2 separate regions of the Homo sapiens genome follow, and region 2 is linked to region 1. A link means that fine-mapping ties the variant in region 1 to the expression of a gene that starts in the linked region. Tissue or cell type: prefrontal cortex. Region 1 holds a variant in brackets; the other region holds the start of a gene. All regions are shown on one strand. Distances are from middle to middle.

Evidence for each region. PIP is the estimated chance that this variant, and not a neighbour inherited with it, causes the effect.
Region 2: it holds the start of FRMPD2, and the variant in region 1 is fine-mapped to the expression of FRMPD2 in prefrontal cortex (GTEx, PIP above 0.99).

What each region holds. Positions count from the first base shown.
Region 1 is chr10:48,179,459-48,184,609 of GRCh38, forward strand. FRMPD2 (FERM and PDZ domain containing 2) reads right to left here. Exons shown (of 29, transcript NM_001018071.4): 20 at 5,108-5,151; 21 at 1,345-1,550. Among named protein-coding and RNA genes, the nearest start is that of FRMPD2, 93 kb to the right of the region's middle. The variant G/T (reference allele first, on the strand shown) is at 2,948.
Region 2 is chr10:48,271,549-48,276,699 of GRCh38, forward strand. It overlaps FRMPD2 (FERM and PDZ domain containing 2), which reads right to left and starts at 3,148. Exons shown (of 29, transcript NM_001018071.4): 1 at 2,995-3,148. The coding sequence starts at 3,019.

The DNA of each region.
Region 1 (5,151 bases):
GCTGAGTTCCTCCCACCTTACATACTCCTGCTTTTTGTCTTATCTCATTTCTCCATGACTCTCCATTCTTCATCAAATATACTCAGGGAGAACTGTTTCTTCAGGTCATTTCCATAAGAAGGCTCACATGTCACATAAAACTTATAGTAAATACACGTGGATGCTTTTCTCTCATTAATCTGTCTTTAGTTACAGGGGTCCCAGCTGATGAAGCTAAGATGAGTAGAAGAAAGATACGGGTTTTATCCCCGACACTGGGCATAGTACCTTAGTTTCCACGGCTGTGGACAGACATCATTATCTCCATCATAAAAAGAGAAACGAGGTTGAAAGAGGTGCAATAACCTGCCTGTTTCAACCAGCAAGTTGTCCCAGCAAGAATGAGAAGGGCATACACTCAGCCTGAGTAAGGGAGGATAGGTCGTGGGAGACCTGTTTTCAAAGGTCTTGCCAGCCTTTGGAGAAACCAGTAATATCAGTTCAGCACCTGGGGCTGGAAACACTGGGTGCTGTGACCACCCCTGAGCCTGAAGGGCGAGAGAAGGGAGTGGTCGATGGACCCTGATAGGAGCTGTGCTCTTTGTAGAGGGGCACAGGCAACCTGTGTCAGCACAGGGAAAGAGTGGAATGAAGGGTGTGCAACTGAGACTCCAGCACTGCCACCCTGTCCTCACTCATCCCACAACTGCGGGCTCCTGCTGAGGCTTCGACTGGGCAGAACCAAGCAGAACACAGCAAGGTGACTCAGTCCATGAGCACCAGCTGTGCAGGGCCCAGAGCAGAATGGAGAGGCTGGGGCATGGGTCTGGCGGGGCCTGAGAAGACAACACCACTGGGAATCCAAAGAGACGGCAGAGGACAGCAGAGCTGGGACTGAAGCACACAGCCCTCCATACACCTACTCCAGATCCCATCTTCTTCCTCCATGGGGTATGGTCAAGAGCAAAGCCACTGAGTTCCCAGCTTGAGGACCAATTCAAGGACAAGAATAGGAGGTGCCTGGTTGCCCACGCCTTGCCATTGGCAGCAATCAATTTCCTCATGGTGCTATTATCACAACAATTATAATTAGTGACTAAAGACTCCAGAGGCACCCACACTGAGCCTGTGCCCAGACACTGTCCTAGAACTCTGCCTTCTTCTATGCGTTTTTCTCAACAACCATGCCATGCAGGCATTTGCTTCTGTATGCAAATGAGGAAGCTGTGGCTCAAAGGGGCTAAGTAACTTCCATCCACCTGACATGGAAAACAGAGAACAGGAAGGGCCTAGGGGCCAGGCTGTTGGGCTTCACAGTCTGTTCTCTTTCATCCAGATCTAGAAAGTAAACCAAGGGATGATTACCTTTAACGGCAGAAAGGAAAGCTGATGTCTCAGCCTGGGCACTAAGCTCTGCACCCCAGCCATGTCTAGTTCTTCAGTATTTCTGTCCTGGTCTTGTGTGTGTGACAACAAACTTCCCTGGTACCCGAAGCTCAGGATGTCTGTAGAGGAGACCCCAGAATTGGCTGTGCTATTCTTTTCTTCATCTGGGTTATTTCCACCAACACCTATAAAAACAAGCCAAGAAAAAGTCAACAGCTTAAAAAGGCCGGTTTCTTGGTGGCATCTCTATGTGGGCACAGCGTTTTCCTCCAGTGACAGAGTGATCGTTTATAGCTGCTCGGGTACAATATGAATTTAGCTCCTCCTGAAAGATGTTACATTTAGATTAGAGAAAGGGAAGATTCTACATGGGATTTAGAAACCTAGATAGAGCTTACGTGACCCAACTATGAATGCGTAGGCTCAAAAGAAGTTCATAAGGCCAGCTATCCCTTATTAAGCTCTAGCCATGTGATGGGCACCTTAGATATACATATAGGAAGATATGGACATCTTCCCATCTTCTCAGCAAACCCACCAGGAAGGTGTAATCCCAGTTCAAACATGAGAAAACAGAGTCAAAGCTATTAAGTGTCCTGCCCCAAATGCTACAGCCAGCATGTGGGAACTGTCTTAAACCCAGCCTCTCCTGGACACCCCACTGAGCACATCTGCAGCCACCATGTGATCCAAAAACCAACGTATCAGGTCCTTTTGGGAGGCTTGGTAATAACCAAACTGCAGGCCCCTGTGAGTGAAAGCTAGGCCACTGATTCCTGCTCACCCTGTGTCTGACTCGTGACCTGGCATAGAACAAAGAAAAGAACGTGAGGTTGTGAATCAGTAGAAAAACCTTGGGCAAGGTGCTTAACATAACTGAACCTAAATTTTCCTGTATCTAAAGTAGAGATAATATCAATATCAATAATATTGTAGAGTTGGTGAGGCTTAGAGATTATACGTACAGAAAAGATTTTACATATGTTAAGAAAGATAAAAATATATATGTATATATGAAAGAATATATATTCCCTCATATATATATATATATATATGGCTCTCATACACACACACACACACACACACACAGACACGCACAGCTTAGTACATGGTAGAGCCTCAATAAATGTATCTACTGTTAACATGTTATTATTAGCTGCTCCACAAATATATGTGGGAGGAATGAATAACAGTTAGATTTTCTTTAGACCTGGATACAAGTAGATTTACTACTTTTGATACAGACTCATTAACACTCAGGGAAGTGCCCAAACTCACATGCTGAATGAATTCAATTTAAATAAATCTGATTTAATGAATTTGATTTGAAGTTATTCAAATCTAAAGGTATCCAGCAGGGAGTGGCAGGGCCACTGTTTCATAATGCTGTATTTCTGGCCCTTTCATTCACAGATTCTGTCATCATTGTCCTTCTGGCAGTGTCATAAGCATCGGCTCATTCTCTTCCACATCCTCCATGAGAGGTGAGGATGGGACTTACGATTGAAATGAAAAGTCAAACCATGCTGCAACTGGTGTCCTGCCTAGTAGACATATGAGCTGGGAGACCTTTTTTGGTAAA[G/T]GAAACTCAATTTATTGTAGACCATGACAGATGCTCATGATGGACATTTTATCTGTCTGATCCTGATCTCCAATCTAGCCCAGCTGCCTTAACAGCAGCCTAAAGAGATAGAAGAAAGTCATGGTAGTCAAGTCTCTGCCACGGAGACCCAGCCAGCATCACCAAGGAAACATCTTCCTCTGGCAGTGGCCCAGCTATGAGGAAACCCCACCATGATGAAGGCAGCATTGCCAAAAGGTGGCTGGGGTGCCACAGTGAAAGGACATTTTATTCCCAGCCATTGTGGGAAACTCATTGTCTGGAATTCTAATGTGAGGTTGTGGTTTGAGAATAGCAGACCTCGAGTACTGCTTTTTGACAACCTCCATCACAGCAGGCCATCCTTGGACTATGCTGAATTGTGATTTGGTCACCTGCATTGTGTTTCCTGACAACACATGGGATGGTTTGACTGCTCCTGTCAGTGGAGGATGTGGAAGAAAACACAGGGATTGCTGAACCACTGCAGAAAGGAGAGCAGTGGTGCTGGGAAATCCAACAGACAGCAAGCCAGAGACTGGCATTGGAGATGTACTGAGGCCAGTCCCTGAGAAGGCTTCAACCCCAGGATGAAGGGTGTGGGGCTGAGACCCCAGCATGGCCACCTTCCACCACCCATAGCTTCTGGACAGGGGAGCTGCATGGCACTGTGTACAGGTACAAGAGTGAGAGAGCATGCATGCAGAAGTGTTCAGAAGGCAAGGCAAATGCAGTGCCTGCATTTAGTACCTAGAAAATGCTGGCTGGTGTGACAGGAAGTTCTCCTGTATACAAGGGAAAACTGTACAACACCCCTCAAGTGTGAAGAAGCAATCATGAGCCTGAATTTGCAGGCGGTCTGCTGTTAGTTTACAGGATCACCCAACCAAAAAGCAGCATTGGTCTCAGGAAACTAGGGAGAAGGGATGTTAGCCTACTCCCATTACTTCCTCCAGGCTCCTCAAGCTTGGTCCCGATAAAAACAATAGTATTTTCCTTTAATATAGGCAGTTGTTGCTCTCTCATTCTTATCTAAAGGATGAAGAAAAGCATCATCAAAAAGTACTTTACTCTTTAGGTTGATCAGGAACATGCACATCAAGTAAGAAGAGCGAGCTTGCCACGAAAATTCAGCTTTAAGAAAAGGCCAGGTGCAGTGGCTCATGCCTGTAATCCCAGCACTTTGGGAGGCTGAGGCGGGCAGATCACTTGAGTTCAGGAGTTCCAGACCAGCCTGGCCAACATATTGAAACCCCGTCTCTACTAAAAAATACAAAAATTAGCCGGGTGTGGCAGCGCGTGCCTGTAATCCCAGCTACTCAGGAGGCTGAGGCAGGAGAATTGCTTGAACCCAGGAGGTGGAGCCTGCAGAAAGCCAAGATCGTGCCATTGCACTCCATCCTGGGTGAAAGAGTGAGACTCCATCTCAAAAAAAAAAAAGGAAAATCAAATACCGCATGTTCTCATTTACAAGTGGGAGCTAAATAATGAGAACCCATGATCACAAAGAGGGGAACAACACACACCAGAGCCTACTTGAGGGAGGAGGATGGGAGGAGAGAGAGGATCAGGAAAAATAACTATTGGGCACTATGCTGAGCACCTAGGTGATGAAATGGTCTGTATAGCAACCCCTGTGACACGAGTTTGCCTGTAATAACAAACCTACACATGTAGCCCTAAACCCAAAACAAAAGATTAACAAAGAACAGTGCTTGTCTCCTCCCCAGCTGATTGCTATACCTATACAAAATATAGAAATTTTGTATAGGATTCTATACAAAATATAGAAATCCTGGAGCCGACCCTATCAACAAGGACTTTGGGTGGCAATAAAAAGGTCCTCCCTGCCATGCAAGGAGAGTTGACAGAAAAAAAAAGACTGGTTGTATCCAGCCGTGTCTAACAAAATTAGAGTAGGTTACTCCCTTTCAGCAAGACAAGCATGGTAACGCCCATTCTGCCCCTGAAATTGCAAAGCTTATTAATTTGTGCCACTACACTGCTTCTTTGCAAGCCAACACCATGAGGAAAGCAATATAGAAGACCTACGTGGACTTCAAGGTCTAGTACCTCACAGTAATCATGTACTCCTGAAAACAGGGGAGCCTCTTAAGCTCCCAAGAGTGGGTTAAAACATACCTTTTGACTGAGAAATAATTAATTCTATGTTGTCAGGGGAATTC
Region 2 (5,151 bases), 92 kb after region 1:
CCCTTCACTACCTACTCTATTTCCAACAATGTTGGGCTATGATAGCTCAAGCAAATACAGGAATAAGGAGGCTTACAGCCAAGGCAAGAAAAAAAAAGGGAGGGCAGTTAACAGTAGAGCTGCCAGCGACCAGTAAAAGGAAGCCTGAGGAATAGGAATCAGCCTCGAAAGCAGACTTCTGCCAGGAAAGCAGCTAAAAACACTGATATCTCAGGGTGAATACAATTCAGGAGGGGAATGAGAATAGAAAAGCATAGTGGCTGGAAGAGCAGGCTCCGAGGTCAGAGCTGGATTGATCCCACCTCACCGTGGGCAAGTTACTTCCTCTCTTTACTCGTTTATACCATGAGTTATTGTGTCTGGCATATGGCAGTTTTTCAATAAATCCTAGCTATTCATATTATGAATCCTGAGTATATGGAGAGGGCAGGGAATAGGCTAGAGACAAGCCAGCAAAACTGGGGTTTCAGACCAGAAATGACTTCACTAATGGAGCTGCAGGTAGCATTGTCCTGGGCTGCACACCGCAGCCCTTGCTATTCCTGAGCAGTTGAATTCATAGTCATCTATTCATGGTGTTCTTTTTAATAAGTCCAACATTTTGGTGAGTGACAGCTTCATCCCCAGAGAGAAGGAAGTATTCTTCCTAATTCTTCCTTCGTGCCCCCTTCATTTGCACCCATGAGTCATTTTCTCACCACTCTGTATTCTGCTCCTTAAACCTTTCTTGGATTCTGTGATATGCTGAAGAAGGCTCCTACTGGCCTGTGAGAGCCAATTGTTAAATTTCCAGAAATTTTGTAAGCTGGTCATTAAACACAGCCATTACCAAAAAGTATTATAAAAATCTCCAATTAAATAAGTTATATTAACAATATGTTGAAACTCACCATTTCCAAATTATTTTACTGCATTTTACTGTTGTCTGTGCTTTGGAACTTATTTAAATGAAATACATTTCTATGATGGAAATACTGTGTAATGGTGTGCTGGTGCACAGCCCTTCCACCTTTGTGTTCAGCGATATCACATTGGGAGCTTGTGATTGGCCATGGTGGTAGTATTTATACCACAAAAATTGGCAAAAGCTACAAATTAGGGCTTGGTTTGCTGTTTTTTCATTCCCTAAGAAAACTAAGAAAGTGATGGAGAAAATGTTCATGCAGATTAAACCTAAAAGTGTGTCGCGTCCATAGTTGTTACATTGTGAATAACACAAAAATTGGGAAAACACTCTTCCAAATTCAAAAACTATGATCTGATCCAGCAGTCACTCATGTCATTGACAGATGAGTGAAGTTAAGACAATCATCTTCATTGTTTCACTTTCTTCTTACTTGTCAATGTAAACAAAAATATCAACCAACATTCATATTGGAACTACATTCAGTGGTCAATTGCAAACAGGCTGACCAAGGGTATAAGAGTTCAGCAAAAATCAACAAATGCATGCTGTGAGAATCAAATGGCTATATAGAATTTGTAATAAAGAGTATTTTATATTTTATTACTTGTAAATTGTGCAATATACATCCTTCATATCAGTAAAATTTATAATGAACTTATTAGATGCATATGTATTTGTTTTTGCTCACAGTGCTGGCAGCACCAGCTTGGAGACCTCCCCTTCTCTACATTCCACTGTTGTTTTCTTAGGTTAGGCCATCTGTCATCATTCCAGGTTTCATCCTCTCCAATCCCACACCCATATTGCTACTAGATTAATCTTCTTAATATTAAATGCAGACACGACACATCCTTCATTAAAACTACCAGTGCCTATCTGGGACCTTCTGAGTGAACTCTGGGCCATAGAAGGCCTTCCTTGCTCTCCCCTGTTCACCTCTGCAGCCTCCTTTCTTATCAGATTCCCCTGTTCCCACTTTACTAAAGTTAGGCCAAACTGCCTGCTGTTCCCAGAGCATGCTTTACTTATTCATGCCACTGGGCCTTTGCATGTGCTTTTCTCTGCTTGGGATGCCTTTTCCAATCCCCCTGCTCCCAACTCCTGCTAGTGTTCGCTTAGCATTAAAGCCATGCTCAAGCAACACCTCTCCCAGGAGCCCGTGCCACCTCCATTTCGGCACTTGCTATCACCGCCAGTTTTCATGCAGGTCCAGCATTCTGCCCCCCGACCCCCACTGTCCTACAACCTGGAAGATCCTCTGGGCTGGGGGAGACATCCCCAGCATTTGGCATGTGGCCCCAGGAGATACCAAGTAAGTTCTCGTTGAATTAATGAACTACTTAATTGGTTTCAGCTACAGCCTATAGCAAATCACAGGATTTAGCCAGGAGAAATAGACACGACTCATCTCTGAACTCAATTGTTGCTTTAAAAAAAAAAAAAAGTTGTTTACACTGTTGAAAACCTCAACTGAGTTTTTTCTTTCCTTTAAGCATACAAATAAAGCCAGGTGAATCATTTCTTTTCCATTGTTTTCTGGAAGTCAGCTAGGCATACCCTGAGTCTTCTTACTTTAAACCACTGATACTCTTTAAGCAATAACCAAAACACTTGCTTCTGAAAGATAGTGACAGCCATGATTTACTGGGCTACTCAAATGCTCCAAGTATGTTCTAAGTGCCTTACGCGTGTCACCCCATGAATCCTCAGCAACATCGTAACGCATGGGGCATTATTATCCCCATTTTACAGGTAAGAAAAACGAGTCTTAGGAAAGTTAAAAGAGTCATTTGAATTTGCACAGATGCTGAATAGCAAAGCAGTGATTCAAACAAGGGGTGGTCTGATTCTAAAGTCCATGTTTTCTCTTCTGAGCCCATTCTTTATTGCTAAAAAACAAATACAATGTCTATCAGGCTTAGCCAATGGCCTGGAACAAATAATACTCCAAATAATACCACAAAGGGCACTGACACAGGTCCTTGCCCAGCTGTGTTCTTCTTATTCCGGATACCTAGACCCAGTAAGAAGTTTGCCCTTTCCCTGACCAGATTTATAGGAGAAAACTGAATGATGCCAAGGAATACCTGCGTCCTTCGTTAAAGGCTGCATCCAAAAGTCTCCGTGACCAGGTCTAGGCCTTCATCATGGGACAACTTTCCAACAAGGAGCAGGGGTCTCTTGCAAGTCTGTCCGCGGAGCTCCCTGCCACCAGCACTGTTGCCGCTGTCTTTGTTTACTGCTTGTCACTAAGCACTTGCTGCCCAGCGAGTGAGTCAACAAGGCCCCTTCCCTTTCCTGCCACCACTCTCATTCCCTGGGTCCTGCGCAGTCTCTGGCCTGTTAGCAGGCACTGCCACCCCAGCAGCCTGCGTCCTCAAAGCCAGTGACCCGTGAGAGAGCCAGGAAGAGCTCAAGTGGATTAGGTGCCACTGAAGGCAATGGGATTGCTGCTCAGCAGGGCTTTTACGCTGATGTCTCTTTATCTCCTGGCCCAATCAAAAGAAAGAGCTCTGCAAGGAACTGGGGGCAGCCCCAGAGCAGAGGCTTAGTGTCATCAACTCAAGAGTCCTCCATGCCCTTTCATAGTGTCAGACATTGGACCTGCAACCAACAGGACAGGGAACCATGTGAAAGCAGCAGGAGGAAATGATAACCTGGATCTGTCTGTGAGAAAGCAAGAAAAATGTGGTTAGAGAAAGGGGGAAAGGAATTCTTACTCTTTCTGGTGCTTGGATTCAGAAAGGAACCAGCAGAGATGGGGAACAGCAAGAAGTAGATCATAGCTCTGTAGTAGAAGGGGCAAAAGAACAGATCTCTCAAGCCCTTTAAATCAATAGCAGTGTCAAAACTGAGACGTATTTATTTAAAAAGAAAACATGAGTTTTTGCCTGACTACAGAATAAAATACTAAAATTTGAGGCCGGGCACAGTGGCTCATGCCTGTAATCCCAGCACTTTGGGAGGCCAAGGCGGGCAGATCACGAGGTCAGGAGATCGAGACCATCCTGGCTAACATGGCAAAACCCCGTCTCTACTAAAAATACAAAAAATTAGCTGGGCCTGGAGGCGGGTGCCTGTAGTCCCAGCTACTCCGGAGGCTGAGGCAGAAGAATGGCGTGAACCTGGGAGGCGGAGCTTGCAGTGAGCCAAGATCGGGCCACTGCACTCCAGCCTGGGTGACAGAGCGAGACTCTGTCTCGAAAAAAAAATCTGATGAAACTCAGTGCTGGTGAGGGCATGGAGAATGAGTACTCTCATATGCCAATAGTGAGATTACAGATAAGTGCAACTTCTCTGCAGGGAATTTGGTAATATTCATCAAATTTGTAAATGTACATATCCTTTGTAAACCCAGCTGCTAAGAAGTAACCCCATGGACATTCTTGCAAAAGTTCACCAAAGCATCTGAGAAAGGATGCTCTTTGCAGTGTATTTTGGTAGTAGCAGAAAACTGAAAGCCACTGAAGTGCCCATCAACAGTGATTATTGTAGTTCACACACAGTAGAAAACCAGCTATGCAGCTGTGTAAAGGAAGGAAGTAGATCTGTGTGTGCTGGCATATAACAATTGCCTAGAAAATTCTTTAAGTGACAAAAGGTATGGAATAGCCTAGTATGTTTCCTTTTATTACAAATAGGTACATAAAGACCAGGTATATTTACGTATATTTATGTATACATATTCTTTATACACTGTAGTATATTAGAATATTATGTAGACATATTCTTGTGGTTCTGGAAGGAATCACAAGCAACTTAATAGTGGTTGCTAGGGGAAAGAGTTTTGGCTCATTATTTAGTCAGGAAAATTATTGTTCATTTTGGTATTTTCCCCCTATAACCTTATGTTATATTACTTGAAAAAAACTAAAAAACACAATGTTTTACATTTTTTTCTGCTTAAAGCTATCTATATTGACATTCCCTGCTAGCTAGCAAAACATTTCACAATATCTGCAACAATCTTTTACTGTTTTTTCCAAACTTGTCTTCTCATCAGATTCAGCCTTGAAGACGATAAAATGCAGATTCCCAGGCACCACCCTGAATCTGCTGAACCTGAATCTCTGGGCCCGAGCCAGAGCATCTGTATTTTCAGCAAGTGTCCAGGTAATTTTTATTTAGTAATTTTTTCAGGCTGACCACGCAACCTTTCTCCCAGAAGAAGAAAGTTGACTTCTCCAGTCATGTGGCTCGTTCACAACAGAACAAAAAGCAACACCTAAGTCATCTGCCAACAG